Homo sapiens: one gene and its partners. The protein of the gene in region 1 purifies or fractionates together with the protein of each later gene. This does not show direct contact. Each region holds a gene or a part of one and is shown on either strand. Other genes may lie near its edges. The genes, in order: MEAK7, NMT1 and NMT2.

Region 1 (10,823 bases):
CAGCATCCCAAGTAGGTAGGATTACAGGTGTGTGTCACCATACCTGGTTAATTTTTGTATTTTTAGTAGAGACGGGGGTCTCATCATGTTGGCCAGGCTGGTCGCGACCTCCTAACCTCAAATGATCTGCCCACCTTGGCCTCCCAAAGTTAATTTTTGTATTTTTAGAGATACAGTTTCACCACGTTGGCCAGACTGGTCTCGAACTCCTGACCTCAAGTAATCCACTCGCCTTGGCCTCCCAAAGTGGAGGGATTACAGGCGTGAGCCACCACGCCCAGCCCCCTACTTCTGTTTTTGATTTAAATAATTTGAATTGTCTCCCTTTTTTCTGTCAGTGTAGCTAAAGATTCTTCATATTTTTGTTGATCTTTTCAATGAACCAACTTTTGGTTTCATTAAAGAGTAGCTGTGTAGTAATAACTTTTTTAGACAAAAATCAGGTAACACAGTAGAAAAGCAGCTTAAGAGCTGAGAGGAACTGGTCTGTTTATAACTTTGGGGTTCTGTAAAGAAACAAATTTCTCTCAGAAACGAGTGTGGCACCTTCTCTGTTTTCTTTAAGGAATCCCAGACTCTTAGACATTATTTTAGGTCCTTCATACAGCGGAGGGTAGCAAGAGGAAGGAGAGACACGCAGAAGCAAATGGAGAAAAAAATTCAGTTGATTGAGAAGGAAATAAATCTTCTTTTTTCTAAAAACAAGACCCTAGGAGAGACAAAAAGGCATTATGTCCCTTTAAATACACACACACACACACACACACACACACACACACACACACATCTTGATTAGCTTTTAATTAAGCTGACTTTAACCATTGAGCTCTTTAAAAAAATCATTTTAAATCTTTTACTACCGTATTTTACCTGGGACAAAAATGACTGGTATTTCAAAAGTAACACAAATATCAAACCAGAAAGGATTTTGATGTAGGAACCAAACTCAGGCTGTTGAGGTAAAAAAAAAAAAAAAAAAAAAAAAAAAAAAAAAAAAGGCGGGGCAGAAACTTAGCCGCCCAGCGAGAGTGTGGGCCGCTGCCCTGGGTCTTTTAGTTTGGGCCTGGCTAGTAAAGGTTATGGAAATAAAGCCCCTCAAGGCAGTCAAAATGTTTTTTTCCTTTTGGTGGCCTTGCTCTTTCCTTCTTTTTTTTTTTTTTCCCCCAGCTATGGGAATTTAGCCAATTCAGAGGCCTTGTTTCCCTATAATTTGGAACGTTCCCTCGGATTTGACCAAGTCAGGTAGAGTTGATCAAACCAAGTGGGAAAAAGACTGAAACAATAAAAACAGAAGCCACAAATAAAAACAGTTCAGCAAAACAAACACACGCTCACACAGTTTGTACAATTACTGAGTGCTCTAATGGTAAGGAGAAGACCATTGGTAAATGAAGACCAGTTGGTTGTTTAAGTTTTAGTCATCAGGAGAATTTTTAAGACAAAACCCCAATTCATCTACTTTCCTAGGAGTGGGGCCCAGGCTGCAGACTGCCCTCTGCCATCTTAGAAGCAGGAAAACCTCCAATTCCCCTTCCCTGTTGGAAGCGAGCTGCAACTCCAGAAAGCAGTTGCTTGCCCTCTATCATTATGGAAACAGGAAGACTTGCCTTCCTTTTTGGAAGCAAGTAAAACTCAGCAAAATAAACCTTAGATCTCAACCAAATTTGGGGAGATCAGGGATTTTCTGGAGGGGGTAGCTCCTGGGCCTCAGCAAATCATCCTGTTGGTTTGAGCAATGAAGACAGCAGGCATTGTGGAGCTGTCCATCCTCGGGGAGTCCTAAACCCCAATACTGTTGGGATGAGGTCAGAACTCCTGGACAAAGGCTTTGGGAAAAGTTCTAGGCCAGCCAAGTGCATCATTAGAAAAACGAGTAACTACATACATTGCATGACCTTTCCCCACATTGTGGCCCATCATAGTTGGTGTTAAAGAAAATTGCCCTTCTCCATGTGGGCATGACATAGGTCTCAGGATATGGTGGAACTGTTTTTAATGGTAAAATTGTGATCTTACAGTTTACAGAGGATCTGGTTGGCTCTGTGGTGCACGTGCTAAGCCACAGACAGGAGCTGAGAGGCTGGACTGGGAAGGAAGCCCCAGGGCCCAACCCCCGGGTGCAGGTGCTGGCTGCTCAGCTGCTCTCTGACATGAAGCTGCAAGGCAAGTGTGCGTGGACGCGGTGATGCAGGTCTTTTGCTGTAGAGCGGTACCTGCTGTCTCCATTACTGTAGCTGTGTAGTAAAGCTTTGAAACCAGAATGCGTGAGCCCTCGAACCTTCTTCTAGGTTTTCTAGTTTGTTGGCATATTTTAAAATAATCCTTATTTTCCCAAAAGCAATAGGGATGTCCCCACTTCCATTACTGATTTAAATAATTTGTCTCTTGTCCCTTTTTCCTCTTAGTCTAGCTAAAGGGTTTTCACATTTTTGTCGGTACTTTTTGAAGAACCAGCTTTTAGTTTCATTAATTTTCTGTTGTCTTTCTAGTTTCTATTTATTTTCCTCTAGCTTTTATTTTCTTCCTTCTGTTTGCTTTAAATTTGTTTGGTCTTCTTTTCCTAGTTTCTTAAGATAGAATACTAGGTTATTGATTCGAGATCTTCTTTTTCAAATAAGCATTTACACTTGCACATTTCCCTTTCAGCACTGCCTTCGCTGCATGCCATAAGTTTTGATAGGTTATGTTTTTATTTTCATTGATCTCAATATTTTCTAATGTCCCTTAGGATTTTTTCATTTGGCCTACTGGCTATGTAACAGTGTGTTATTTAATTTCTCCATGCCTGTGAATTCCTCAAATTGCCTTTTAGTACTGATTTTTGATTATATTTCATTATGTTTAGAGAAGATACTTTGTATTATTTGAATCCTTTAAAATTTGTTGATGCATCATTTATGGCCTATAGTATGGTCACTTCTGGATAATGTTTAAAGCACATTTGAGAAGAATGTGTATTCTGTTGTTGGGTGAGAAGCAGTATATATTTAAATTTAATTGGGATTAAAAAAAAAAACCTTGTGGCAAATCACTTTGCAAAGCAGACTTACTTTATAAATATGTTGCCCTTTTGTTTTAAAGCCAGATTTTAAAGTACAGCTTGAAAATAGGTTATATTTCAGAAGTTAGTTTAGATGAGGTATTTGGAACTTGGAAAGAATTTTACAAGTAAGTATCAGTAATTCGTCTTATGGGTAAACTGTTCATCCATCTAGAATCAGTATGTTTTAAAAGAAGAATCATGAAAATAAAAATTAAAGTTTTCAGTGAAGTAGAAAAGGTAATTCAGACGATTAAAATTATCCTTAAGATTTCAAGTAATATATAGGTAATGAGAAATGAAACTGTTTGAAAAATAAATAGAAATGATAGGAATTTTGAATTATCAGAAGTTGGGAGTACTTTTACATTTCCTGCTTAATAAAATGGGCCTGAGTTACACAAAATATTTCAGCTTAGTCAAATTTTCGCTAGGTTGGGAATTATAATCTCTGTAAATGGGGCCTTTGTGTCAGCAAGAGCTTAAGACGTAAAAGCTCCTCTGTTCCTTGTAATAACCGAGCGGGGCAGGTTCTGGCCTTACCTCCATTTTATACCTGAGGAAACTGAGGCACAGAGGTCCAGACCTTGGCAAGGTCATGCTGTTCCTGAGCTCGGGTTTGAAGCCAGCTGTTCGAGTCCCAGGTGTGTGCTCCCACGCTCTTACTGTCACCTCCACTCTTAGTGGGTGAGGGATGGAAAATAGGGCTCCAAGTGCTGTATGATTAAGCCTGATTAGTGGCGAATGAAACCCGCACTTCCCAGATAAACTGCAGGAGTCCCAGGAAGTGCCCTACCAGCCCCTTGACTGGCTGGGAACATTCCCCTTCCAGTGACCTTGGCAGGACCGACGCCCTTGGATGAGCGGCTCCAGGTGTAGCTCAGGCATTTATTCCAGCCCCATTGCCAGGGCACTGCCATCTCGAGGGGTTCTGAAATGCTGCTTGGAGAGGAGAGAAAAGTGTTGAAGTCGGATTGTTTAGATCAGTGCTGGCCAATAGACAAAGCAAGCCCCATGTGAAATTTTCCCTTTTCTAGGGACCATGTTAAAAGAGTAAAGAGAAACAGGGGAAAACTGATTCTAATAATATGTCCTAAATACAATTTTGAAATGTAATGAATATTTAAAAATTGAGATATTTTACATTCTTTTTTCATACCAAATCTTTGAAATCAAGTGTGCCTTTTACACTGACGGCACCTCTCAATTCACACGAGCCCTGTTTTCTGTGCTCAGTAATTGCATGTGACTCGTGGCTCCCACACTGATCAGTGTGGGTTTAGATAGTAGCTAAATGGTGACATAACAGCCCCACTAATGCTGACCATCCCCTTCCCCTAGATGGCAAGAGACTTCTGGGGCCCCAGTGGCTGGACTATGACTGTGACCGAGCTGTGATCGAGGACTGGGTGTTCAGGGTCCCCCATGTGGCCATATTCCTGAGTGTGGTCATTTGCAAGGGCTTTCTCATCCTGTGCTCGTCTCTTGATCTGACTACCCTGGTCCCTGAGCGTCAAGTGGACCAGGGCAGGGGTTTTGAGAGCATCCTGGATGTCCTCTCTGTCATGTACATCAACGCCCAGCTGCCTCGGGAGCAGCGGCACCGCTGGTGCCTGCTCTTTTCGTCTGAGCTCCATGGACACAGCTTCTCCCAGCTCTGTGGCCACATCACTCACCGGGGACCCTGTGTGGCTGTCCTCGAGGACCATGACAAGCATGTGTTCGGTGGGTTTGCCTCTTGCTCTTGGGAGGTGAAGCCTCAGTTTCAAGGTAAGACTTGGTGTCCTGAACCTTGACGAGTGGCACAGCACGGGCAAAGAGCTCTGGAGAAAGGGAGAGGGTGGGGGTGCTAAATAGGGCTCTCCCATCTTCTCCAAGTGTTTCTCTAGACGCAGTCGGGGCGATAGGAAAATGTGATGCTGCTCTATGGTGTTTATCACATCAGAGTTCTTCAGGACAGGCCGTGTGACCCCCAGTTTTCAGGCGAGGACACGGGCCCAGTTATTACACGGTGCCGGGTCTATGGGGCGTGGGAGAAGTCAAGCCACAGATGCCTCCGAGGGGACCAGGAGATGGTAATTGGTTCAGATCGGACATTTTCCTTCCCTGGGCCTTCCTGCCCCTGCCCCCACCGCCACGCGTTTGCTTGTTGGAATTTGGAAGCTTTGTGCATGACCTTGAATGCACTGGATGAAAGGTTCTAAGTAAATTCTTTTCCTTCCCTCAAGGAAGAATACTCTGATGAAAAGAGTCCTTTAAAAATATTTAAAACACAGGCCAGGTGCAGTGGCTCACACCTGGAATCCCAGCATTTTGGGAGGCTGAGGCAGGAGGATCACTTGAACCCAGGAGTTTGAGACCAGCATGGGCAACATAGTGAGACCTTGCCTCTATCTTAAAAAAAAAAAAAAAATAATAAGGCTGGGCGTGGTGGCTCAAGCCTGTAATCCCAGCACTTTGGGAGTCCGAGGCAGGTGGATCACTTGAGGTCAGGCATTTGAGACCAGCCTGGTGAACGTGGTGAAACCACGTCTCTACTGAAAGTACACAAATTAGATGGGTGTGGTGGCGCATGCCTGTAATCCCAGCTACGTGGGAGGCTGAGGCATGAGAATTGCTTGAACCTCGGAAGCAGAGTTGCAGTGAGCCGAGATCATACCACCGCACTCCAGCCTGAGCAACAGAGCGAGACTCCATCTCTAGATAGATAGATAGATAGATAGATAGGTAGATAGATGGATGGATGGATGGATGGATGGATAGATAGATAGTTTTTGAAATGTTTACAGATGCGTCGCCCATCAGTGGGCTGTCCTCTGTACTTGAGAGTGGGCCACCATCCCCAGGGTTTGCCTTTGGCATTCCCCGGTACATCCTGTATCTTACCCCGCACCTCTGGAATCGTCATTTCTCCACCAGGCAGAGGTTCTGAAGGCCGGGAACTGTGTCCAGGTGGAGTTGCCCTTGCAGGAGAGCTTTCAGCAGAGGCTAGGTGGCATCTGGCTGGAATAGGTAGCAGGGGTCACCAGGTTGAGGGTTGGGCACCTCTATCTCCTAGATTGCATTGTTTCTAGGGTTTGATTTATATCTAGGTTTCAGGATGTTCTAGATCTTTATCTTAGTTCTGGGAATGGTGGGAATTCTCCCCAAATCAAAGTTTCCAGGTGCCAGCCCAGGGCCGGCCCTGCAGGTGGGCCTTTCTAGAGACAGCAGCCTCAGCCTTGCCACGGCCACTCTCTTCTGCACACCCACCTTGCCCTGCCTCCATGTCACAGGCATAGGGCATGTGCCCACCAGCCCAGCCTCGGGCTCCGGGGAAATTACACATTGCTCTGCCTCACTGCATGGCTGAAGGCTCGGCTTTAGGATATGAAGAGACCCTGAGCATCATGATCAGGGTAAAGCTGCTGCTCCCTCCAGAGCCTTTAATGTTAATTTCAGATGGACTCTGCTGGCTCTTTATGTTTTATTAACAAGCAGACTTAATCTTGCTGAAGCATGTGGGAAAAATGCAGTGGCCAAGTTTTCAAACCCGAGTTCATTCTGTTGCAGTACGTGTCCATACTCACGAAACAACAGCAGAGGGCAGCCTCACACCACGCATGGTACAAATCCGTGGACTGTGGGTCAAGTTCGGAGAGCGTGCTGTCCGCTTGTCCTGGAAATAATGACCTCTAATATCTGAGACTTTAAGTGATTTAATAGCTGTGGGACAAACAATGAAGGCAAATGCTGGGGAGGGTGGCCACCTCCTTGAGTACAGAGGATATTTCCCTGCGGGGTAATGTGGCTTCGTAAACCTTTTTAAAGGACTGTTTTCATCAGAGTGTTTTTGCTTGAGGAAAGAAGAACTGATTATACTTAGAGCCTTTTGGCTTGTGTTTTCTGTGCAATCATTGAAAAGGCCCAAGGCTTTGGATTGAACACAGGATTTTGAGTCCCAGCTCTAGCCCTGGGCAAGGTGATTGATTCATTTTCTGGGCCTCAGCTCCTCAGAATTACACGAAACCATGCTGTGTGGGCAGGCAGCTCCTCGGCGGCCGAGCGTCAGGTGCTGGTGGCCGCACGCTTGGGTATTGTTTTATGGGAATGAGATAAGGAGTCCTCGTTGTTGGTGTCACTTTTTTCCACAGATAATCATAACTCATCAGGTCCTTGCCCTGTATTCTGGGAATGATGCTTCCCCCTCCTGGCTTTCCCTATGGAGAACAGCCCTTGGGGGTGGACTAGGATCTGGGCCTATCGCAGCTGAGGCCTGAACTCTGTGGCCCTGCGACCTTGCTCCGCAGCAAGACGGGCTCAGGATTGCAAAGCAAAGGGCCGCTTACCTGAAGTCCAGTCGGGGAGAGCGGGGCGGGGGCAGTGCAGACGGGTGTGACCCAGCTGTTCATGGCGGCGTCTAAACCTGCCCTCAAGCCTCTGGGGCTGCTGAAACCCAGTGAAGCAAGCCTGAGTCTGTAGCCCAGAGTAAAGCCCTTCACTTAGCTGGTTCCAGTGGAACTTTCTAGCCTAACTATCCTCCTTCCTCCACCCGATGCTCTCAAGCCCCACTGTTCCGTACCTGTCCCACACCTTGTCCTCATGGGATCCCTTCTCCATGGGGACTCTTGCCCCAGCCAGCTCTGTTTCAGGGCCTCCCTCTTGACCTCGGAAGCTGCCTCCCAGAAGCCTCCCAGACCCTGATGGCAGAGGCCCCCCAGCGATCTTTCTAGATTGGAGCCTTGGGCGGTGTCAGCCCACACTCTACAGACTGAGCCCTGTTGGCTTGCTCGGGGCCATCGTCCTCTTCCAGCCTCCTGGTCTTGGTGCCCCCTTCTTATCTGCGTTCCATCATGGTGCCCCCAATTTGCTTCCTGTGACTTCTTTCCCACCTGATGAATAGCCCAACCCCAAATTCCCATGAGCTTGTTTCTCTGCAGCCTTCCAGCTTGTTGTGACAGTTGTGTATGCTGGTGTCGAGGCGGGCAGCCCTTCCGGCCAAGTCCTCAGAACATGGTGGGAAGTGTCCCTCGCTGGGAGCTCCGAGGACGAGGCCTGGCCTACGGCCCTGTCCCCAGTGCTGAGGTGCTTATGGAGTGGAGGAGTCTCTGAGACTGGGGACCCATAGTTTCCAGAGTTTTGACTGGTACCTTTCTTTTAATGGCCTGTGTGCCCACCCCATGCCTTTGGGCGAGGGTAAACTACTTCCTTTCGTAGGCCGTGCCCCTGGGGACAGCTCTGCAGCTGCAGGTTTTCTCTCTCTGCATGGTACGTTCTTTCAGGCCGGGGTCAGCACTACGCAGCGTCACTTGCCTGCTCAGGTAGGCTGTGCTGGAGGCCTCAGTCTCTGCGGAGTGACCACCTGCCCCGTGCTCATAAGCTAAAGGAAGCCTGCTCTTTCTGGCTCGGATGTGCTTGGCCAGCCTGAACTGATTCCAGCAGACAGTGGGCAGAGTTCTGATCTCTGCTCCCCTGGCCAGAGCTAAAAGATGTCCCATTCCTTATTAGCTGTCCCTCTAATCCCTGCATCCCCAGCTCATCCACCTGGGTCCCTAGCAGCTTGTCCCAAACCCTGATCTGCCGACACCTGGACATGGGTGAGAAGGGTCTTGGCCCTGTTGCTTCCTGAGCTGCAGCTTACCGGCATTTCCGGCCCTGTGGGACCGGCTCAGACACCGACCCTGTTTGTTTTGTTCTCTGGCTACTTTCAGGGGACAACAGATGCTTCCTGTTCTCCATCTGCCCCAGCATGGCTGTGTACACACACACGGGCTACAACGACCACTACATGTACTTGAACCATGGACAGCAGACGATCCCGAACGGACTGGTGAGCCCGGGCAGAGCGTGGTGGTCTTGCCTTGGTGATGTCCCCCAGCAAAGGTGTCAACCCCGAGGCTCAGCTCCACAGATCAGGGCAGGGCGCGTGGCATTCAGTTCCTCACGCACGCCATGTCCAGTTCCTTCTGTTTCCAGGGCCGGTGCTGGGGGCAGTGACAGCTGGGCCAGGGTTTCCCTTAGAGAAGGATGTGGCCTCTGCTGGGGCTTCTCAGTGGTTTGTGTGCAGATGGCACACTTGGCCCATTTTTCTGGCCCTCAGATGATTGGTTTGTAGCCTTTGTGGCTAGGGATGGTGTCAGCGCCAGACCTGTCCCTGCGCGTCGCTGGCCTGCCTCATACGTGGGAGTGCTGGACCAAGGGGAATGGACGGCCGGCAGCTCATGAGACAGCATGTGGGGCCCCAGTTGGGGTGACCGTGGCTCCTGTCCAGCCCTCGCTTCAGCTTGGTGACATGGCACAGGAAGCAGGGGGAAGCGGGGGAGGCCTAGGCCGGGTGCAGGGAGTGGGTGGGCACGGGTCCAGGCAGGCCCGAGGGCAGGAGTTGGGGCAGCATCCACGCCGAAGCTCAGCTTGCTCCTGCCAGCTCCCCTGCTGATTTCTTTCCTCTGCTGCTTGACAGAAAGCTCTTTTCTTTTCTTTTTTTTCTTTTTGAGATGGAGTCCACTCTTGTCCAGGCTGGAGTGCAGTGGCGCGATCTCGGCTCACTGCAAGCTCCGCCTCCCAGGTTCACGCCATTCTCCTGCCTCAGCCTCCCAAGTAGCTGGGACCACAGGCACCCGCTATCACGCCTGGCTAATTTTTTTGTATTTTTAGTAGAGACGGGGTTTCACCATGTTAGCCAGGATGGTCTCCATCTCCTGACCTCGTGATCCACCCGCCTTGGCCTCCTAAAGTGCTGGGATTACAGGCGTGAGCCACTGCGCCCAGCTGACAGAAAGCTCTTATTGGGAAAATCCAGCCCTGTTTCTGCAGAGCTGAGGGCAGAGAAGGCTGGTCCGATATAGGGACCAGCGTCCTTCCCAGGCTTACCACACTGCTGCCCTGGAGAGAGGGAGGGGCGTGGCCAGGCCACCTAGAACACCTGGCACCTTCTGGAAAGGGCGGTCTGGTGGCGGCAGGAGTGAGGGTGCCAGCCTCACAGGCAGCACCCGGCAGGCCCCGGTCATCGCTCGTCATTGGCCCTGAGAGAGCGGCTCCGCGTGTCAACTCTGGGCAGTGTGCTCGGGTCTCTGGTTGCCCAAGGTCAGAACTAGGGCGTGCCAGGTGTTACAGGCCTACCAGGGACCAGAGGAGGTTCTCTGCAGGGTGAGATTGAACAGCTCAGAGCCCAGCCATGTGACTGAGGGTGGAAGGCACAGGGGTTCGCATCCGCCTCCGGGTCTGCCTCCGCATCCTGTAAGCCACACACTCGGAGCTGAGTTTCCCAGCCTGTCTTGGGGTGAGGATCGCTGCCCGGAAGCGGGGCACTGGGGCCCCAACACAGGGGGTTTGCAGTGTCAGCTTCTGTGTTCACCTCTCCCCTTATCTTAACTGGGCGGGGCCCTGGGCCCTGGAGGTCTCTTTCTCTATATATATTTAACATTTTTAATTCTCTGATGTCACTTGTGCTTTCAGCCAGCAAATCTTCTTGAGAAAGAGCCATGGGGTGGGTGTCTGGAGACATAGATGACTGTTCTAGTAACTTGGCATGGGATGCTTAAATGGCAGTAATTGATATATTTCACAGTTAAGGAAAACAAGATGATGGCATTCACCACTCACCCGCCCCTGTCTCAGGCTGGTACTTAAGGCGAGAGGCTGGCTTGTGGTATTTGATGTCCACAGACCCTGAGGAGTTGCTGATGCTATTCTCTGTCCTGGCTTCCTTTGCAGGGTATGGGGGGGCAGCACAATTACTTTGGGCTTTGGGTGGATGTTGATTTTGGGAAAGGACACAGCAGAGCCAAGCCCACGTGCACCACGT
Region 2 (10,823 bases), on another chromosome or scaffold:
GAAGGCGGCCGTATTTAAAAAAGAAAAAAGAAAGAAAGAAAGAAAAGAAAAGAAAAAAAGGGTCGTTGTGGAAAATTCTTGTGGGGAATTAAAGGGACCACGTGTGCGCGAAAGAGCTTGGCGAAGATAAGTACCTGGAGGCCAAGATGAGGCGGCGAGCCCTGCCTCCCTAGCAGTGTGGTCTCCTGGCTTAGGGTCAGTGCTTCGCACAAAAAAATCCACTGCCTCTCATGAGACCTTGAACTGCCAATGACCGCAGGTTGCCCAGACTCCCGAGTGAGGAAGGCGGCCAGGAGTCAACTAGGCTTCTTGCGGAAAAGCCCACTCTAAGAAGGCCTGGGGCATTCCGGCTCCAGGCAGGTAGCACCCGCGGGCCTCAGGCCCTTTCACTTACCCGGGAAACGTAACGGTCCTTAACGGCAGCCAATAACGGCTCCCAGCGGCCCAGGCACTGGCAAGGGCAGGCTGAAATCAAACCTCGGATTTTGGAACCTCCACGCCTGAAACCCTAAACCAGCATCGAACTACAACTCCCATCATGCCAGGCGGCCGCCCGGTTCCCAAGGGTCGGTCCCACCAACCTTGCGCCCCTTCTTTCCTCAAAGCGTGGCCGAATGCCTAGGCTTCCGGGTATCAGTGGCCCCGCCTCTTAATCCGACCGGAGCCGTCCCTCGTGATTCCTGGGTATTGTAGTCAGTTTCCTGGGAAAGAGTCGCTCCTAGTGGCAGCTCGCTTCGCCAGAAAAACTACAAAACCCAGAATGCAGCGCAAATTCCCCTTGTCCAATAGGAACCCCCCATGTAGTGGGGCGCGGAGCCCTGCTCTCGCAACTCAAGATGGCGGACGAGAGTGAGACAGCAGTGAAGCCGCCGGCACCTCCGCTGCCGCAGATGATGGAAGGGAACGGGAACGGCCATGAGCACTGCAGCGATTGCGAGAATGAGGAGGACAACAGCTACAACCGGGGGTAACGAAATCCTCGGAGTCCAATTCCCGTCCAGCCTCCCACAACCTGGGTCTCTGGGGTGCGGGGAAGTCACCGGGAGCTTAGTCTAGCCCCACCCTCATGTTCTTATTGGCTAAGTCACTAGGATTCTGCCTGGCGATTGGTTATTGCCTTTGTCATTTACCAAGGGTGGGTGCTCTGGATATTAAGGGCCGGAGACGTTCAGTACTTTTATTATATAAAAGTTCTATGCAGTGTTCCACTCGTGTGCTTCAGGCCATTCCTGGGAAAAGAGCATGTTGGACGATGGTTTTCGATGGTACAACACAGGACAGTCTAGTAACAGTACAGTTCAAAGGGAACGTTACTTATAGACGTGTTGTTTGAACAACGTGACTAGCAATAAACGAATCATAAAACATTTCGCAGCAGTTCACCCTCAGTGAGGAAACTCATCAGACTATACAAACTGTATGTATAATTATATTGTAAAATATCACTACCAGAGAATCCCAAAATATAAACTCACCTTATAAACCTATGTAATTAACGGTATGGTAATGCTTTGATTTACATAGTTTCCATTGCTCCAAATAATCCATAAGTATCCTGAACGATATATTAATATAATTAAGTCTTCGAACATCTTTGCCTTGTTACCTTTGCAGAGCAGCCCCAGGCTTCAAGAAATGAGCGATGTTGTTTCTTGGAGAGTATTTGGAATCCTCGGGCTCCATACTGCCTATCCTGTACTTTAGGGTCTTGCCATTAGTTACTATTTGTTCCTAGGGATGAAGAAACACACCAGGCATTTGAATGTTGAATTCTTTTCCCAAATTAGTTTTTACTTCTGTAAGCCACAGCTTATTCATCTTTCTTCACATGGTTAGTGCCTGGCACTGGCACTCACGCTGTCTCTCCCCATCTTCCTGTCTATATTTGTAGATATATTTTTAAACTGAAAGTCGTGAGAGATTTTTGGGTGTATAACTTGCTGAGTCTGAGGTAGTCTGATTTTCGTAGCCAGCTTGTTATTCGCAGTATTGGTGGCAGTGCAGATATAAAGGTATAAAGACCAAGGACTGCGTAGAAGAGATGGTCCCACAAGATTATAGTACATATTTTTATTGTATCCTTTCTATGTTTAGGTATGCTTAGATACACAAATACTTACCATTGTATTATAGTTGCCTGCAGTACTCAGTAACATGCAGCAGCCTATTGCTCCTAGGCTACAAACCTGTATAGCATGTTACTGTAATGTACACCATATAGCCTAGGCATTTAGTAGGCTATACCATCTAGATTTGTGTAAGTACACCCTATAATGTTGGCAAGGCAAAAATCACCTAACCATGCATTTCCCAGCACATATGCCTGACGTTCAGTGAAGCATGACTGTATTTAAGTGGTTTATAATCTGCTTGTGGTAAATCTTAGGTTAAAAGATCTAGCTTTTATGTTCTTCAGCCGGCATTAAAAATCACAGGAAGGGCCGGGCATGGTGGCTCATGCCTGTAATCCCAGTACTTTGGGAGGCAGATCACGAGGTCAGGAGATCGAGACCATCCTGGCTAACACTGTGAAATCCCATCTCTACTAAAAATACAAAAAATTTAGCCGGGCGTGGTGGCGGGCGCCTGTAGTCCCAACTACTCGGGAGGCTAAGGCAGGAGAATGGCGTGAACCCAGGAGGCAGAGCTTGCAGTGAGCTGAGATCACGCCACTGCACTCCAGCCTGGGCGACAGAGCGAGACTCCGACTCAAAAAAAAAAAAAAAAAAAAAAAATCACAGGAAGAAAGTAGAGGAATAGGAAGCTTGCCAAATTTAGTTTTTATAAGACTGTTCTGTTGCTGTAACTCACAACAGATCTAATGTAATAAAAGTCTTCTTTTGAAGTTTGATATTCCTAAAAATGGAAGAGCTGAGAAAGAGGAAGTAGGAACAGGAAGAAGGGAAAGTGAAGCTCTCCTGAGTAGAGATCTGAATCACAGATGAGAGTTGGTGAATGTGAAAGTCATTCCAGAAGTGAAAGTGTGGCATTTTCTTTGCTCTTTTTGTAGTTGCTTTTATTTTTATCTTCTTAACTGTTGTCCTGACCAGTGTCCTTAGGTTTGTGCCCTATAATCTGTGAATCACTTTTCAAAACTGTGTGCCAGAAAGTTATTTTATTGGCCTGGCGTGGTAGCTCACACCTGTAATCCCAGCACTTTGGGAGGCCGAGGCAGGTGGATCACTTGAGGTCAGCAGTTCGAGAACAGCATGGCCAACATGGTGAAACCCCGTCTCCACTAAAAATACAAAATTTAGCTGGGCATGGTGGCGTACGCCTATAGTCCCAGCTACTCCGGAGACTGAGGCAGGAGAATCACTTGAACCTGGGAGGTGGAGGCTGCAGTGAGTTGAGATTGCACCACTGCACTCCAGCCTGGGCAATAGAGCAAAGCCCTGTCTCAGAAAAAAAAGTGGCACACAGTGGCTCATGCCTGTAATCCCATCACTCTGGGAGGCCGAGGCGGGTGGATCACGAGGTCAAGAGATTGAGACCATCCTGGCTAACATGGTGAAACCCTGTCTCTATTAAAAATAGAAAAATTAGCTGGGCATGGTGGTGCATACCTGTAGTCCCAGCTACTCGGGAGGCTGAGGCAGGAGAATCACTCGAACCCGGGAGGCGGAGGTTGCAGTGAGCTGAGATTGCGCCACTGCACACCAGCTTGGCAACGGAGCGAGACTCCATCTCAAAAAAATAAATAAATAAAATTATTTTATTTGTAGTAGAAGTAAGTGATAACCTTAAAAACTTTGACAGTTTGCAGTGGTGTCTCTGTGCATGGTTATGGTCTGGGTGAAAAAATTATGTTTATTAGCGTCCCAAATCTAAAGATCTGTGAAAATGAGTTTGGAGGTAGTAGGTGAAAAACCAAGGGCCTAGTCTGGAGGAGAGAGTCTAATTCTGGCACTAAGAATCTGGGGTAGAGTCAACATTTTTCCATGAACTTTGAGAGGAAATGGTTTTGGGGAGAAGCAGCAATGTGGGAAAATGCAGCACGGCACAGTAGAAAAGCATGGACTTTGGAATAATTTAAATCTGGTCTGAGGCCAGGCGCGGTGGCGCACATCTGTAATCCCAGCACTTTGGGAGGCTGAGGTGGGCAGATCGCTTGTGGTCAGGAGTTTGAGACCAGCCTGGCCAGCATAGTGAAACCTCATCTCTACTAAAAATACAAAAATTAGCTGGGCATGATGGCAGGCGCCTGTAATCCTAGCTACTTAGGAGGCTGAGGCAGGAGAATCACTTGAAAACAGGAGGCAGAGGTTGCACTGAGCTGAGATCTCTCCAGTGCACTCCAGCCTGGGCGACAGAGCAAGCCTCTGATCTCAAAATCTCATCTCAAAGCTTGGCTCTGACACTTAACAGTCCTGTGACCTTGGGAAAGGTACTTAACTCAGAGTTGTAGGGATTAATGAGATAACATCTGGAATGCACTCCTTTTCCTCCCTCCTCCTCTTTCTTCAGATCGTCCCTAACCTCCCAGCTTGCCCCTCTGCTCTTATCACATACTGTATTGTAGCTTTTATCGTAACAATAGTTATAATAACAATAAATATAACTACATGTTTGGTAATTTTTCTTAATGTGTCTGGTACCTGTCTCATCTGACAGTAAGGAGCATGTAAACAGGATTGTGTCTTCGAAATGCCTAGCACTTAGTGGGCATTAATGAGTATTTGCTGTATGAATGAATGGCAGATATTAAAGTGCCTAGCCCAGTATTAGTGGAGTTTCATCTCCCCTCACCAAGTGAGAGGATGTCAGATTTTTCTTACATACACATTTTCTCTCCCCAAATAATTCTCATTGTAAGCCTCACTACAGTTTTTATGAAATACCTACAGAGGCAGGGCATGGTGGCTCACACCTGTAATCCCAGCACTTTGGGAGGCTAAGGCGGGCGGGATCATGAGGTCAGGAGATCGAGACCATCCTGGCTAACACAGTGAAACCCCATCTCTAATAAAAATACAAAAAATTAGCCAGGTGTGGTGGCGCATGCCTGTAGTCCCAGCTACTCGGGAGGCTGAGGCAGGAGAATGGTGTGACCCTGTGAGGCGGAGCTTGCAGTGAGCCGAGATTGCGCCATTGCACTCCAGCCTGGGCGACAGAGCCAGACTCTGTCTCAAAAAAAAAAAAAAAAAAAAAGAAATACCTACAGAAACCAGGAAGCTCCAATTTGCTGTGGAGCTTTCCACTGTTGTGTGCTTTCCACTGTGTTTTGCTTCTTGAAATGTTTTTTGTCTTAATATTATTTAAAATGTTCTCAAAAATCATGTAAAAATTGACAGAGAAGTTTTCCTTTCAATGCTAGAGAGTCTAAAATGTGTAATATATAATAAAGGTTAATGATAGTTCGAGCTAACCCTTATTCTCCTGGGCCTTTTTTTTTTTTTAAAGAGACTGTGTCTCGCTATGTTGCTCAGACTAGTCTCAAACTCCTGGGTTCAAGTGATCCTCCTGCCTTAGCCTCCCAAAGTGCTGGGATTGTAAGCATGAGCCACCACACCCAGCCTCCTGCCCCTTTTTTTCAGGAACTAAAGTCATAGTACTCTATGCTAATAAAATGAGCTAAATTCATGTACTGGATTCTGTTGCCCGGGCTGGAGTGCTGTGGCGCGATCTTGGCTCACTGCAACCTCTGCCTCCCGGGTTCAAGAAATTCTCCTGCCTCAGCCTCCTGAGTAGCTGGGACTACAGGAGCACACTGCCACACCCGGCTAATTTTTCATATTTTAGTAGAGACGGGGTTTCACCGTTGTTGCCCAGGCTGGTCTTGAACTCCTGAGCTCAGGCAATCCACCTGCCTTGGCCTCCGAAAGTGCTAGGATTACAGGTGTGAGCCACCACGCCCGGCCAGTTGTATTAGTTACTTATGTCTCTTTGTATATGAATTTAGTTCTTGACTTTTCTGGTCTTGTGTTTCCTCCGTAATTAAATCAGCATAAACATTTGGTGAATATAAAACTTCATGTGGTTGTGTGTAGTGGCTCATGCCTGTAATCTCAGCACTTTGGGAGGCTGAGGCAGAAAAATCACTTGAGCTCAGGAGTTCGAGACCAGCCTGGGCAACATGGTGAGACCCCATCTCTATAAATAAAAACAAAAAAACCCAAACCCTTCATGTATACATATAGGTATACATGCATACATATGCAGTGTGTATGGGTGCGTCTCTTCAGTTTTTCTATTTAAAAATTTTTTAATTTAATTTTAAAATTATTGTTATTACTTTGGAAACAGGGCCTCGCTCTGTCGTCCAGGCTATAGTACAGTGGTGTGATCATGGCTTACTGCAGCCTTTGACCTGGGCTCAAGCGATCCTCCCACCTCAGCCTCCCAAGTAGCTAGGATTGTAGACATGCACCATCATCCCTGGCTAATTTTCTTTTTAAAAAGTTTCTGTAGAGATGGGGTCTCACTATTTAGCCCAGGCTGGTCTCAAACTGCTGGCCTCAAGTGATGCTGCCACCTTGGCCTCCCAAACTGCTGGGATTGTGGGCATAAGCTCCTGCATCCAGCTGGTTTTGTTTGTTTTTTTACTGCACTCAATTTCCCCCAGTTACGTGCCTAGCGTAATTATCCTGAACAATTGAGAGGAGAGTCAGATAAGATAACCTTTATGCAGCATCCCCCTGTAGTTCGTGATTCATCTATATGGTTTAATTTGATTTTTTTTTTTTTTTAATGAGAGTCTTTCCAAGAAGTATTGCCAAAGAATAAATCTCATCAGTTGGCAGATTTTAATTTGGGGGTAATAAGTGAAGATTGTCTGAGTGTTTTGGAACAAAAAAGAACTTTTAGACTATTGTGTTCTAGGAATCTTTCGGAATTTATTTTGCAGTGTCTTCAGTGTCATTGAGATCCTGGTAAGCACGGGTCAAGAGCCCTCTGACAAGAGGTGTCTCATCTCCATCCTGCTCTCTTACTCCCTGGGACAGGTTAACATGGATTCTTTATAAGTTCTCCTCATTTCCTGGTTGTGAGATACTATCCCTTATGAAAACTTAGGAGGAGAGAAAAGTCTTTCTGAAAATAAATTCCATAAAGCTAGCCTTACTTGTTTTTGTTTTTTTCTTCAGCTTCTCCAAGAGTCGTTCTTTCCCTATTTATTTGATGGCTTATAGCTGCAGCTAGCTCTTGGAAATAAGAAATCTTTTTAGTTCCTTTTTAATTTCTCCCTTCAACTTTTGGTTTTTCAAAACTAGATCAAAGCAGAATGGAAAGAGAAACCTCATCACTGATATCAAATAAGTGTTCTAATTTTGTTTCCCAATTAAATGGCAATTAAAAAGAAACTAATCAAGAGCTGCTTCAAAGAGAAGAGACTGGAAAGCAGAAGAAATGGAAAGTAAATGAGAGCCTATTTCAGGGACTCGCTGCTCATGGCACAGCAGTTTTGCTGATTTTTCACATTGTTCAACTAATATGCTCACGCTAAAATTCCCCAGCTTTACTAAGTTGGCAGTTAACCCTTTCCCTATAGAGCCCATAGATTTATGAGCCATACATTTAGTAACTTCAGGAGGATGCTTCTTTAACTCTTTCTCTTCAGCTTTTTATCTGAAATCTCTACCCTTCAGGCCTCTCTTCCAATTCCTCAAAGAAGATGTCCTTGTGATTGTTACATTTAAGGGACAAAAATATGGTGTTCTCTATTGAGAGCGCCAAAAATACTAAACCGGAATTCCTCCATAGGCTCAGTATTTGCCTCAAAAATGTCCCAGCACTTTGAGAGGCTGAAGTGCGCAGATCACTTGAGGTCAGGAGTTCGAGACCAGCCGGGCCAACATGGCAAAACCCCATCTCTACTAAAAATACAAAAATTAGCTGGGCGTGGTGGCACACACCTGTAGTCCCAGCTACATGGGAGGCTGAGACAAGAGAATCACTTGAACCCGGGAGGCAGAGGTTGCAGTGAGCCCAGATGGCGCCATTGCACTTCAGTCTGGGCGACAGAGAGAGCCTCCATCTCAAAAAAATAAACAGAACAACAACTTTCTAGAGCTGCTCTCTTGAGAGACAACTGAGGAGTCACTATGGTTAAGTGTTTAGTAAATGTTACTATTATTACTACGTAGTGGGCATTGTGCTAAGCCCTTTACTTGGATTATATCCTCCATGATTTCACTTATGAAGACTTTAGCGATTTTTGTTTGTTTGTTTCTTTTTTTGAGTCTCACTCTGTCGCCCAGGCTGGAGTACAGTGGCACGATCTTAGCTCACTACAACCTCTGCCTTACAGGTTCAAGCAATTCTTGTGTCTTAACCTCCCAAATAGCTGGGATCACAGGTGTGCACCACCATTCCCGGCTAATTTCTGTATTTTTAATAGAGACACGGTTTTGCCATGTTGGTCAGGCTGGTCTCGAACTCCTGGCCTCAAGCAGTCCACCTGCCTTGGCCTCCCAAAGTGCTGGGATTATTACAGGCGTGAGCCACCATGCCTGGACTTTAGTTTTTTGTTTTTTTGGGTTTTTTTGAGACAGAGTCTCACTCTGTCGCCCAGGCTGGAGTGCAGTGGCGCGATCTCGGCTCACTGCAACCTCTGCCACCCAGGTTCAAGCGACTCTCCTGCGTCAGCCTCCTAAGTAGCTGGGATTACAGGTGCCTGCCACTGTGCCTAACTAACTTTTGTAGTTTTAGTAGAGACGGGGTTTCACCATCTTGGCCAGGCTGGTCTTGAACTCCTGACCTCGTGATCCATCCTCCTTGTCCTCCCAAAGTGCTGGGATTACAGGCGTGAGCCACCATGCCTGGCCAGACTTTATTTTTTATTATTTATTTATTTATTTATTTATTTATTTATTTTTGAGACAGAGTCTCGCTCTGTTGCCCAGGCTGGAGTGCAGTGGCGTGATCTTGGCTCACCACAACCTCCACCTCCCAGGTTCCAGTGATTCTCCTGCCTCAGCCTCCTGGATAGCTGGGACTACAGGCACATGCCACCACGCCCAGCTGATTTTTGTATTTTTAGTAGAGATGGGGTTTCACCATCTTGGCCAGGCTGGTCTTGGAACTCCTAATCTCGTGATCTGCCCACCTCAGCCTCCCAAAGTGCTGGGATTACAGGCATGAGCCACCACTGCGCCCAGCTAGACTTTAGTTTTTATAGTGAGGCTTGAGATTTGCATCTCCACTGGTCTCTTTGACATCTCAGAGGATCCATTCTGAACTTGCTAGGTTTCTTTCCCCTGCTGAATTGAGTTCTGCATCTTGAGTCTGCAGCAGTGTGAATCCTATCTTTGGCTCCATTTAACAGCCTATGGACGTTCCCAAACTTGGGACCCAGTTTGTCTCTTCATGATAGACAAATATTATTTTCAGAAGTCATTCTAATCGCACCACTGCACTCCAGCCTGGCAACAGTGAGACTCCATCTCAAAAAAAAAAAAAAAAGTCATTCTAGTAGGTGAGATTTCTGCCAGCATTGAGCCACTGCTCAACATATTCTTGATAATGGTCTCTGAACAGCATTTGATTTTACCTTGGAGTTGCAAAGTCAAAGTCTAACTCGCCAAACAAACTCAGTGTGGAATATACACATTTGTCTCATTCCGGTTTTAAGGAGTTTAGTATACCAGAGCTTTTGTGACCTCTAAAAAGCAGTTATCGTCCATGACAAGAATTGGCTCGTTCACCCTCAGTACTCTGGCTTACTATCCCAGGGAGGGCCGAGGGTGGCAGCAAAAGTGGTCTTTTGTAATCCCTTTTTATAACCTGCTGTTCTCTTCACAGACCTCCCAGGGTACCTTTTTTTGTGTGTGTGTGTGTGAGATGGAGTCTCACTCTCACCCAGGCTGGAGTGCAGTGGCGTAATCTCGGCTCACTGCAACCTCTGCCTCCTGGGTTCAAACTATTCTCTTGCCTCAGCCTCTCAAGTAGCTGGGATTACAGGCACCCGCCACCATGCCTAGCTAATTTTTATTTTTTATTTTTGAGACAGAGTCTCGCTCTGTCACCCAGGCTGGAGTACAGTGGCGCGGTCTTGGCTCACTGCAAGCTGCGTCTCCCGGGCTCACGCCATTCTCCTGCCTCAGCCTCCTGGGTAGCTGGGACTGTAGTCGCCCGTCACCACGCCCGGCTAATTTTTTGTATTTTTAGTAGAGACGGGGTTTCACCGTATTAGCCAGGATGGTCTCGATCTCCTGACCTCATGATCCGCCCACCTCGGCCTCCCTAAGAGCTGGAATTACAGGCGTGAGCCACCGCGCCTGGCCAATTTTTGTAATTTTTAGTAGAGAAGGGTTTTGCTATGTTGGCCAGGCTTGTCTCGAGCTCCAGACCTTAGGTGATCTGCCCGCCTTGGCCTCCCAAAGTGCTGGGATTACAGGCATGAGCCACTGTGCCCAGCCCCAGGGTACCTTGATGGCAGTACTAAAGTGTTTTTATTTTTCCCATCATTTGGGATTCACAAGCAGTTTTTGATATAACTAATTGGTGGGAATGTGCGGAGTTGGGGGTATTGCACTGAGTGATCCTTAGCCGCAGAAGTACAGAGACTAGACAGCTGATACTGATTCATGCCATGTCATTTCCTTCTGGGCATCTTTGCCATTTCATTCACCTCTCTTTGGTCTTTCTGAGTACTAATAGGATTATTAGTGAACTTACCATACTTCAAGAGTTAATTGATTTGCAAAAGGATTTCCTGATGTCTAAAAGTAGAATCAAAAGGATATTAGAGGTTAGAGTTTATTTTAATAAGTTTCTCTGGAAAATTTGAATTTCTGCCCAAAAAATTCATTTTTTATTTGAGACAAGGTTTCACTCTGTCACCCAGATCGTAGTGCCATGGTGCAGTCCTCCTACTTCAGCCT
Region 3 (10,894 bases), on another chromosome or scaffold:
CAGCACTTTGGGAGGCCGAGGCGGGCGGATCACAAGGTCAGGAGATGGAGACCATCCTGGCTAACATGGTGAAACCCCGTCTCTACTAAAAATACAAAAAAATTAGCCAGGCGTGGTGGCGGGCGCCTACTGTAGTCCCAGCTACTCCGGAAGCTGAGGCAAGAGAATGGCGTGAACCTGGGAGGCAGAGCTTGCAGTGAGCCGAGATCGCGCCACTGCACTTCAGCCTGGGGGACAGAGCGAGAATTGGTCTCAAAAAAAAAAAAAAAAAAAAAAAAGGTCTTAACCCTATTTCATGTCTACCCCAGGGACTAATTTAGTCATGTATCTGCCAACAAAAACATACTCACCTATGTTTATTTTGGTTCCTATATAAATCTTCTTAGTAGCTGCTTCCAGTGAATATTGAGGGAAAAGCTCTCTTAACGGAAAGCTATGAGAAACATCTATTTTTCTAGGAAGTATATGCTCTCTGTAAGTCAATGTTGGTTAAGCAAGGGGACAGATTTGGTTTTGTTACCAAAGTTCAACACGAATTTTATTTGACTCTGTCTCCAACAATGGACCATAACATTAGCTCAGTAAGAGATCATGACCAATACCAAATGTATTTCATAACTGGAGAAGCCGGACATCAAAAGGACAGCGAGAAGACAGTGGGTTCTAAATAATTCTTCAACAATTTGGCCTGTCCTCAATGTCCCCAAAGCCCTTCAGAAGAAAGTAACAGAAGGCAAAAACACAGCAAAATGAGGGAAGTATTAAAGATCCTTGAGCATCTTAACCTCAGATCCAACGGTGAAAGCTCCTAGGAAATTCATCCTCCAGGCCGGGCACCATGGCCTGTAATCCCAGCACTTTGGGAGGCCGAGGCCAGGGGATCACCTGAGGTCAGGAGTTCAAGACCAGCCTGACCAACATGGTAAAACCCCATCTCTACTAAAAATACAAAATTAGCCAGGTATGGTGGCACACGCCTGTAATCCCAGCACTTTGGGATGCAGAGGTGGGGATCACCTCAGGTCAGGAGTTTGAGACCAGCCTAACCAACACGGTAAAATCCTGTCTCTATTAAAAATACAAAATTAGCTGGGCGTGGTGATGCACGCCTGTAATCCCAGCTACTTGGGAGGCTGAGGCAGGAGAATTGCTTGAACCCGGGAGGTGGAGGTTGCAGTGCGCCAAGATCGTACTATTGCACTCCAGCCTGGGTGACAAGAGCAAAACTCCATCTCAAAAAAAAAAAAAAAATCATCCTCCAGGTCACCTTTTTGTACCACTGCCACCCATAGCAGAACAGAAATCTTCAGTAATCTGGACTATTTCTAATAATTCATATAGGAAGCTGGACTGAGGTTAATTTTTATCTATGTAGAAAGTCTTTCCAGGCTCCTTCAAGCTCTTTATAAAGACCTACTCCCTAATTCTAATTGCAAATCGTGTGTTAAAGTAAGTTATATAAAGATGTCTTTAGGCAATCCTCTATTAGCCTGGTTCTAATTGCCAAACATTGTTTGAAAATAATAAAATTATACTTGTCTGAATATAGTCTCACTAATTAAAACTGACAATCCCTTCTTCCCCCATGTTTTTTGTAATTCATGAAAGTTTTATAGTGGTTTGCCACTTCCACGCTTGGGTGGACCAAAAAGTTAAAGAGTACATTTAACTCTTTACACTGGCTTACACCTGTAATCCCAGCACTTTGGGAGGCCGAGGCAAGCATATCACCTAAGGTCAGAAGTTCGAGACCAGCCTGGCAAACATGGTGAAACCCCATCTCTACTAAAAATACAAAAATTAGCTGGGTGTGGTGCCACGCGCCTGTAATCCCAGCTACTTAGGAGGCTGAGACAGGAGAATTGCTTGAATCCAGGAGGCGGAGGTTGCAGTGAGCCGAGATTGCACCACCGCACTCCAGCCTGGGTGACAGAGAAAGACTGTCTCAAAAAAAAAAAAAAAAGGTACATTTTCCATGAAAAACAAGATATAAAGACAGTGAGACTCAAGTATTTTATAATACTTACGCCATTGCTTTTAATTAAACATAAAACATCTGATATTTCATTCATGGACTCTTAGCATTATCTATAAAACGAAATACCCTTTTTAGTCCATGAAGAAAATTCCATGAAAATAAAAGAACAGCATATGCAGTTTTACATATTTAAATACTTACATTTTGGTGCAAAACAAGACTCTAATTGGGTATTTTCCTTTTATTTGAGGCTTTAGTTTCAACTTAATATGTCTAAAAGGACTAGTAAATACATTATACTGAGTGGTGGGGTAAATGAATTCTTTCAGGCCACAAGGGCACTATTCAGTAAATTACCTCTCTGCACTGGCCGCTGCCTGGTGGCCTCAAATTGACAAACTGCCTTTAAGAGGTGAAACATGTTCTTACTGATTCATCCAAAGGCTCATTATTTGTTATTTATTTAAACTGATGGGAATGAAGAGGCCGAGTATAGAAAAAGAGTCTTTCAAATTTTAACATTTACAAACTTGAGCTACTTAAAGAAAACCTAGGTTTCTACTGCGATATCATCAGTACATGAGCCAAATAAAACACATTTACTCCCCCAAATTTGGCACACATTGTCTAAATTCAAATCCAAACAGGCAATCCAAGGAGAGCAGTCATTTGGAGTTTTCCTAATCTCCTTACATTTAAATAGAGTACAATACATCCATTATGTTAATCTTTTCCCACTAGAAGCTATTAACATGGTATCTGCTCTTGGTGAAAACATTTCAGTCCATGGGGCATCTCTAAATTTTGATTAACCTTTCTAATATATAAAATGTGCTGATATACAAAACTGAAAACTTCCGAAGGCAGCACAGATGCCTCTGGGTGCTACTCTGGGAACTTTAGCTTCTTGAAAGGTGTCGGGGGACAGGCTCAGATCAATGCGCACACAGATGAGGAATTCTTTGTACCAGGGGCATTCTCAACAGTGTAAGCAAAGAAGTCCTAATCAAGCCCCCAACCTAGAATATCAATCAAAGGAGGAACAATAAACAGAAATTACAGCAGAGAAGATAAAAGTCCAGGGTCTCTCCAGAAAGAAAACACAGGTACTGAAGCTAATCCATCAGCTTGCATCTGCACCTGGGCCCATTTCTGGCAATAGAACTACCGTTTCAAAAACATATTTGTATTTAGCTATCTATCACAAACACGTTTCTATCCCTGCATAAACAGGGCTCAGGTTCAGATTCCTATGCAATTTCCTTTCCTCTCTTTAAAAAAAAAAATATTCTAGACTCGAACATTCGATACTTGCAGCCGCCACTGAAGTATTCACGGCAAAGATAAAAACAACTTGCAAATGGGAGATGCACATAGTCAGCTTTTCTTTTTCTTCATTTGTTAATATTTTATAATGAATTAGAGGTCAGTCAAAAGTCCCTTTCTATAATAAATCTTAAAGTAGACAAGTAGAATGCAAATGATTTACACTTTCAATGATCAATCATTTCAAGAATCTCTCTACGAACTGAGTAAACCATCTGTGACTCAGGCCTCCCTATCATGTTTTTTAAGCTGACCCACTTCTCCATCACTCACCATGGTTCGAAAAATCTCACTTCTAAGGGTGTAGCAAGAACCGCTCTGTGCCAGCGCATAGTTTGAATCCAATAGGGTAAAAGGGTAATGTAAACAGCACTTTAAAAGGACACCAGTTTTTATTTAAAATGACCCACTGCCTCTAAAAAGAGAGCATCAACACCGGCCTTCACCTGAAGCAATCCTTTTCTCCAACAGAAGAGCAAATCAAGTCTGCAGGGTTCGGGGGCAAAGGGAAAGGATTAAGAAATCCGATCAAGTGTGAAAATGCGTGGTGCATCGAGTTTTGGAGATCAAATACCAGCTTTGCAAACAGGATACGGCCAGGTCAGCGGGAGCCCGGTTCAGGGGATCGGCCCTGCTCTGAAGAGCTCTAGGGACAGGCGAGGCGGTGCAAAGCCCAGTATCCCCAGCAGGGGCCGGGCCCGGGACCCCCTCGGCGCCAGAACTTTGCGCAGTTCGCCGCCTGCGGCCCCGACACCATCGGGGCACCTCCACGCCGCTCCACCCACGTCTTTGCCCATTCTTTTCGGGTGGCGGCTGCGGAGAGGGAGTCTGAAGGGACTTAACAAGGATGGCAGGGAGCAGAGGAGGGCGACCTCCTACCCCAGGCTGCGGCCGCCACAAAGGGAAGGGCGTAGCGCCTCTCCTCGGCGCCCACCGGAGCCACCCGCGGGCGAGGGCAACAGGCGCCTCCTGGGCCAGGCCGCCGGCGGGGATGGGCGAGGCTGGCCGGGGGCGCGCGGCAAGTGACAGTAGCGTCTCCCCGCCCGGGCCCCAGCCTCCCCGCCCACCCCGGGCCTCGCCTCCCCGCGCACTGCACTCTCCCGCGAGCCGCGCGCCCCGGACCTCACCATGGGCTCCGCGCCACGGAGAAGCCATCGCGGGGCGGAGCGGCCGAAGAACCCCCAGTCCTGGGAGCCACCCCCGAACGGGAGACCGTGGCGCGCGCGGTCCCCGCCCTGTCGCGCCCGGTGCGCCAGCGCGCCGCCCCTACCCTTTGGCGTGCTCCGTCTCCTCCTCATTGTCCCCGTCTATCCCGCACGTGTCCTGGTCGTCCAGTTCCAGGCTCTGCTGGCTGGCCGCAGACTCGCTGTCCTCCGCCATCGCGGCGGCGCTGGCTGGGGAGGCGGTGCTCGGGGCCGGGCCGGAGCGGCCGCAGCTCCCTCTAGTGCCTCCCGCCGTACTGCTTGGAGTCGGAGCCCGGGCGCTACGCCCCGCCCCGCCCCGCCCGCGCCCCGTCCCGCCCTCCGTCCCGCCCCCTCCCCGCCCTCCGTCCCGCCCCGCCCTCCATCCCCGCCCCTCACCGTCCGCGCCCAGCCCGCCGGCCCCGCCCTGCCCGCCGGCCCCGCCCTGCCCCACGGGCTTGAACCCCGCCCACCTCTTCGTCCCTCCCCACCAAGCCCCGCCTCTCCCCGTCCCGCCGGCTTCAATCCAGCTCTCTAACCCCGCCCGCCTCTGAGACCCCTCCCCTCCAGCCCCGCCTTTCCCCACCCTGCCGGCTTCAAACCCGCCCTCTAACCCCGCCCACCGCCGCAGCCCCTCCCAGATGGCCCCGCCCCTCCCCGCCCCGCCAGCTCCAACCCTGCTCACCCTGGCCAGCCCTGCACAGGGCCGAGTCCTGTACATCCAGGCCTGCGCGGTGCCTCTGCCTGGGGCTCGGCTCTCAAAGCTGCAAACGTGCAGACTTGACATCCTGAGTGGCGGCATTTTTGGAACACAGGCCATGCGATTTTACTTCTGGACGAATTAGGGAGCGCTCCCAGCCCGTGCAGGGGTTTTTCCCACTCAGGAGTAGGCACTCAGGGATGGGGCTTTCCAGAAACTCTTCCCGCCCCTCCACATACATGTTAACAATTCCATTTCGCATCTATCTATCCATCTAATACATTATAAAATCAAATTCAAAGTCAAAAACAGTATTTCCAGCCCTCCACCGCCCTGTCCCAACCAGGCTTGCAGCACTAAAACTCTTGACAGAAATTTTTGAGCTACCCCTGCTTTCCCTGGACACTACTACGGACGGCTCAGACCAGAACAGACATCTTGAGGGACTTGGGGACGTGTCCACGATGCTGGGGGATTGGACAGTTTCAGGTAGGCTACCCTGGCTTTCCCAAAGTCAAGGTCATGACCTAGATTTCCAAGCAAACGTGCACGGCCTTCTGTGCTGAAATTGTCCGCTGTCTCTCTCAGAAGAGGGAAGGGAGGCATTCTGTAGTACTGCCAAATAGAAGACCGGTGAAGTTCAGCCTCTCTTATTTGCTACTGCATTCTGTACAGAGCAGTCCTGTCCTTTGCTTTGCTGAGATGATCTTGTTCAAATGTGCTGCTAGGCCACCGGAAGTCTCCGCAGTGGTTTTGCAAAGATAATCATCAGAACCCGCTCAGTGAGGAAAATGAGACTTTAAAGAGCCACCTGAATTTTTTGGTGTGGGTCCTTTTTTTGCAGAAGATACTAGGAGCATTTTATGGCTTTTTTCCCCAAGGGAGACTATGTTTTTAAAACGCAATGAGCTAGAAGTATCAAAAGATGAAAACTGCAGAGCGATTTCAAAGCCCGTCAGCTGTTTGGCATTGAGACAACTAAAATTCTGTAAGAAGGGCAAATGGGGTCAAAACACAAAAGGAAATACAATATTGCCTTTAACAACGGCAACTATTTCTGAGGCAAAATGTCACATGTCACCTCTGTGAAACTTTAGGATAGAAGCAAATACAGATGAGTGAGGTTCCTGCAGCTCATCTCTGTGAACATGGATTGTTGGAGAACCCGCAGCCCGCTCGGGTAACCAACAGGAAACTGGCCAGGAGCAAGCCTATCAATCAAATCATCCACTCTAACCTGCCAGAAGGGTTCTCTAAAAGAGTTTTTAAAACTTAAGGCAAAGGAAACTCAGCAGTCATATATTTATCTGAATTTTCAAGAAGTTTTGACTAAGAACTGCTCTAAAAAAGAATAAGAAAACAAATAATCCTGGAAAAATAAAATGAGGGCATCAAAAACCAGTGAAACACTAGAAAACAATGACAAACAGGGAACATCTGTTCCCCAGAATGGAAACAAGTTGGTACAGTACTGGATTGAAGTACATCGGTACAGTACTGGATTGAAGTATTATATAATACAAATGTTTTACAGCATTAATCTTTGGAAGGAAGGAAAAGTTTACAGATGACCCTGGGGCTTCCTAAATCCTACTGTCCCGTATAGAAACACTATGTTTCTAAATATTTTTACTTATTTCCCTGGCTTAATTTCAGAATTTGGAGAATTGGAACCAAGTGGCAACTTCCAGCATCTTAGATCTAAAGTTTATTTGGTGGATGGGAGCACTGTGAAATGGCTGCCAGTGTATTATTTTTTCAAGTTTCAGTTATTTATTAATCAGTGTAATCTCCAATAGATTACATCAACATGATTTCATTCATTTAGAGGAGAACTATTTCCTGGTGAAGTGGAAAATTGTGCGGACGGATTCTGGAAGACCTTCAGTCTAAAGCAGCTTTATAGTGAAACATTTCATTTAGAAATCTGGACCTTCTTTCTTCAGTTTGCTGTGATCCACATTAATTGAGTAGAACTTGAATTGATCATCGGGACCCAGTTTGTTCCAGGGATCTGGGTGATTCTTTCAGTCCCAACTAACATCTGGATTGAAAAATGCCAGACGCAAGAGATACAGTCCTGCTCCAGTACCTCTAGCTCCAATAAATACTAAGAGGGAGATCAAGTTTGGATGCTTCTTGGCCTGACCGATGATCTGGTGGAGCGTGTCTGCGGCAGAGGCCTCCAATTGGAAAGGAGAGAACCAGCCTAGCCACCAGGCCCTGGGCTAAGTAGTATCTTGCCAGTGTATTTTAAAAGGCCTTTGGGAATTTTCTATTCTGCCTGGCCCACTCCTACTACAGATGTAAGATTATAGTTGTACAATTGGTCTTGTTTCATTTAAATTGTTTTAACTTCTTTTTTAATTTTGGAAAAATACATACAACATAAAACGTACTATCCTAACCATTTTTTTTTTTTTGAGACGGAGCTTCACTCTTGTTGCCCAGGCTGGAGTGCAATGGCACAATCTCAGCTCACTGCAACCTCCGCCTCCTGGGTTCAAGCGATTCTCCTGTCTCAGCCCCCCAAGTAGCTGGGATTACAGGCGCCCGCCACCATGCTGGGCTAATTTTTGTATTTTTAGTAGAGACGGGGTTTTGCCATATTGGCCAGGCTGGTCTTAAACTCCTGACCTCAAGTGATTCGCCCGCCTCAGCCTCCCAAAGTGCTGGGATTACAGGCGTGAGCCACTGCGCCCGGCCTGGAGTGCTTTATTATGCAGTAATAACTAACCAACTTACAGAAAAACAAAGACCAAAAGAAATCCTTAGGCCGGGCGCGGTGGCTCACGCCTGTAATCCCAGCACTTTGGGAGGCCGAGGCGGGCGCATAAGGAGGTCAGGAGATTGAGACCATCCTGGCTAACACGGTGAAACCCTGTCTCTACTAAAAACACAAAAAATTAGCCGGGTGTGGTGGCGGGTGCCTGTAGTCCCAGCTACTCAGGAGGCTGAGGCAGAATGGCGTGAACTCAGGAGGTGGAGCTTGCAGTGAGCCGAGATGGCGCCACTGCACCCCAGCCTGGGTGACAGAGCAAGACTCTGTCTCAAAAAAAAAAAAAAAAAAGAAAAAAAGAAAAAAAATCTTAAAGACACTCCTTTTTTTACTATCACGATCACTATCTGTATATCTGGGTATGTCTGAAAAAGACTTATGCCAAACCATTAGTTTGCACTTTCCATTCTGGGTTCACAAAAGCAAAGCCCATTACTTTTGCAATACACTAGCTATTCTTGCTAGCTGGTTTGCTTTAGAGTCTGGCTGGATTTTATTTTATTTTTTAAGTGACTCCGTTTCTTTTTAATTTTTGAGGAACCCGGTAACTACCCTGCACCATTTGCAACTGTGCGTTGGAGAAGCTTTTCTCGTGGTCACTGTGAGGGTAATTTGCACCTCCTATTGCTTGGTATTCTGCTAAAAGGTTTTCATACTTGTTCAAACCAGCAGGTTGGTGCCACAGTGAGTATTGCAGATCAGCTGCATTTCAGAACTTCACAGTTGGTGAGTCTGTGTCTTGTCCCTGTAGGACAAGTTGGGGCTTGCGGGTGATGCCAAGGAAAATTCTAGAGGAAGCCGAACAATGCCACAGCAGATGGAAGTATGTGTTCATTTAGGAGGTGGAAGGTGCCTCCATTCTATAAATAGGGTCACCTTGAAACTGCACTGCTTGCCAAACTCCTTAAATGTGTTCAGGTTTTCCCCACGAGTATATCACTGGATAGTTTATTGCCAAACTTCATTAGTTATTTTATTGATAAGGATGATATATTACAGAAGTACACTGTCTCATCAGACATTTTTACTCGAAGTAGAAATACTAAAGGAGGCAAAAGGATCTGTTCTAGCCTGTCCACAATTAGAGCTTCTGGCCCTTTCAGGAAGAAAGGATGGAGGAGAAAGTAACTGATGAAGAAAGTGAGGGCAGTAGGTAAAGAAGAGGAAAGAGATAGAGGAAAATCAGGAAAGGGAGGAGGAAACAAAGAAGGGGAAGAGGTGAGCGCCAGCTGTATACACACCAAGGGCTGCAGCAGCCTCCAGATGCCATGTCTCCCTGCATCCAGGCTCCATCACTCTTTTCAATAGCGCTGCTTGGAAAATTCTTCCATAGCAATCGGAGCATGTTCATCCCCTGACTTAGAAACAATGTGGCTCCCAGTTGCCTTCTGCATCAAGTCAAATCCCCCTAGGTTGGTGTTCAAGTCCCTTCCACACCATAGCCTCACTGTACCTCTGGTCTTAGCTCTGACCTGAGCCTCTCCAGGCCCTCCATATGCCCCGGGCTCCCTTCCTCGTCTCTGGAGGCACCAGGCCCTTGAATGCCCTTTCCTTACTACCTGCCATCACCAAGGACACAGCTCCCATGTTGCCTCCCCTGCCGAGGGTTTATATGTTTGCCATCATCCCAGCACTAGCCCAGCAGCTCCTGAAGAATCATACGTCATGTGCTTCTCTCTGTATCTCCATCACCCAAACAGTGCCTGTAACAAAGAGGACACTTCATAAGAGCTATAGAACGAATGAATGAATCTATGACACCCCTTTTTTCCCTGTTTGCCAGCCCAATATCTTTCTAAAGCTGTTTTTAAATTTAATTTTATTTTTATTATTTGAGATGGGGTCTCACTCTGTTACCCAGGCTGGAGTGCAGTGGCGCGATCTCAGCTCACTGCAATCTCTGGTCCCAGGTTCAAGCAGTTCTCCCACCTTACCCTCCTGAGTATGTGGGACTACAGGCATGTGCCACCACACCTGGCTAATTTTTGTATTTTTTGGTAGAGACAGGGTTTTACCATGTTGACCAGGCTGGTCTCAAACTCCTGACCTCAAGTGATCTGCCTGCCTCGGCCTCCCAAAGTGCTGGGATTACAGGCATGAGCCATGGAGCCCAGCCTTAGCTGTTTTTTTTTTTTTTTAAATTAAAATTATATCTCTTTTGAGACAGGGTCTTGCTCTGTTGCCCAGGCTAGAGTTTAGTGGCAGAATCACAGCTTACTGCAGCCTCGAACTCCTGGGCCCAAGAAATCTTTCCGCCTCAACCTAAAGTTGCTTTTAGTGGGCACCTAATAATATAGCCCATGGAATGTATGGGCTGTGGTGTGATATTTCCATATATACATACAATGTATAATGATCAAATCAGAGTAATTAGCCAAAAAAATCACCGCAAACATTTGTCCTTTCTTTGCATTGGAAACATTCAAAACCTTCTCTTCTAGCTATTTGAAAATATACAATAAATTGTTAACTATTATCTGCCTATAGTGCTATAGAACACCAGAATTTATTCCCCCTATCCAACTACGATTGTGTATTCATTAACCAGCCTCTCTAGTCCCCCTCCCCACTTCCCTTCCTAGCTCTAGTAACCACTGCTCTACTCTTGACCTTTATGAGATCAATTTTTTTAGCTTCCACATGAGTAAGAACATGAAGAATTTATCCTCCTGTGCCTGCTTTATTTCACTTAACATGATATCCTCCAGGCCATTTTTTTTTTTTTTTTTGAGACAGGGTCTCACTCTGTCACCCAGGCTGGCATGCAGTGGCGTGATCATGGCTCACTGCAGTCTCTACCTCCTGTGCTCGAGCGATCCTTCTGCCTCAGCCTCCTCCGGAGCAGCTGAAACTACAGGCATGCACCACCACATCCAGCTAATTTTAAAAATTATTAATACTTTATAGAGACAGGGTCTATGTTGCTCAGG

Evidence for each region.
Region 2: the proteins of MEAK7 (region 1) and NMT1 purify together in Homo sapiens (affinity purification with mass spectrometry; 2 studies listed by BioGRID and IntAct, with this or other methods). This does not show direct contact.
Region 3: the proteins of MEAK7 (region 1) and NMT2 purify together in Homo sapiens (affinity purification with mass spectrometry; 2 studies listed by BioGRID and IntAct, with this or other methods). This does not show direct contact.

What each region holds. Positions count from the first base shown.
Region 1 is NC_000016.10:84,480,618-84,491,440, reverse strand, and holds part of MEAK7 (MTOR-associated protein MEAK7), read left to right. Parts: intron 1-2,018; coding exon 2,019-2,163; intron 2,164-4,381; coding exon 4,382-4,810; intron 4,811-8,730; coding exon 8,731-8,849; intron 8,850-10,732; coding exon 10,733-10,823. UniProt on the Homo sapiens protein: Activates an alternative mTOR signaling through RPS6KB2 activation and EIF4EBP1 repression to regulate cell proliferation and migration. Recruits MTOR at the lysosome, essential for MTOR signaling at the lysosome.
Region 2 is NC_000017.11:45,060,494-45,071,316, forward strand, and holds the start of NMT1 (glycylpeptide N-tetradecanoyltransferase 1), read left to right. Parts: upstream 1-823; 5' UTR 824-836; coding exon 837-967; intron 968-10,823.
Region 3 is NC_000010.11:15,163,929-15,174,822, forward strand, and holds the start of NMT2 (glycylpeptide N-tetradecanoyltransferase 2), read right to left. Parts: upstream 4,766-10,894; 5' UTR 4,685-4,765; coding exon 4,575-4,684; intron 1-4,574.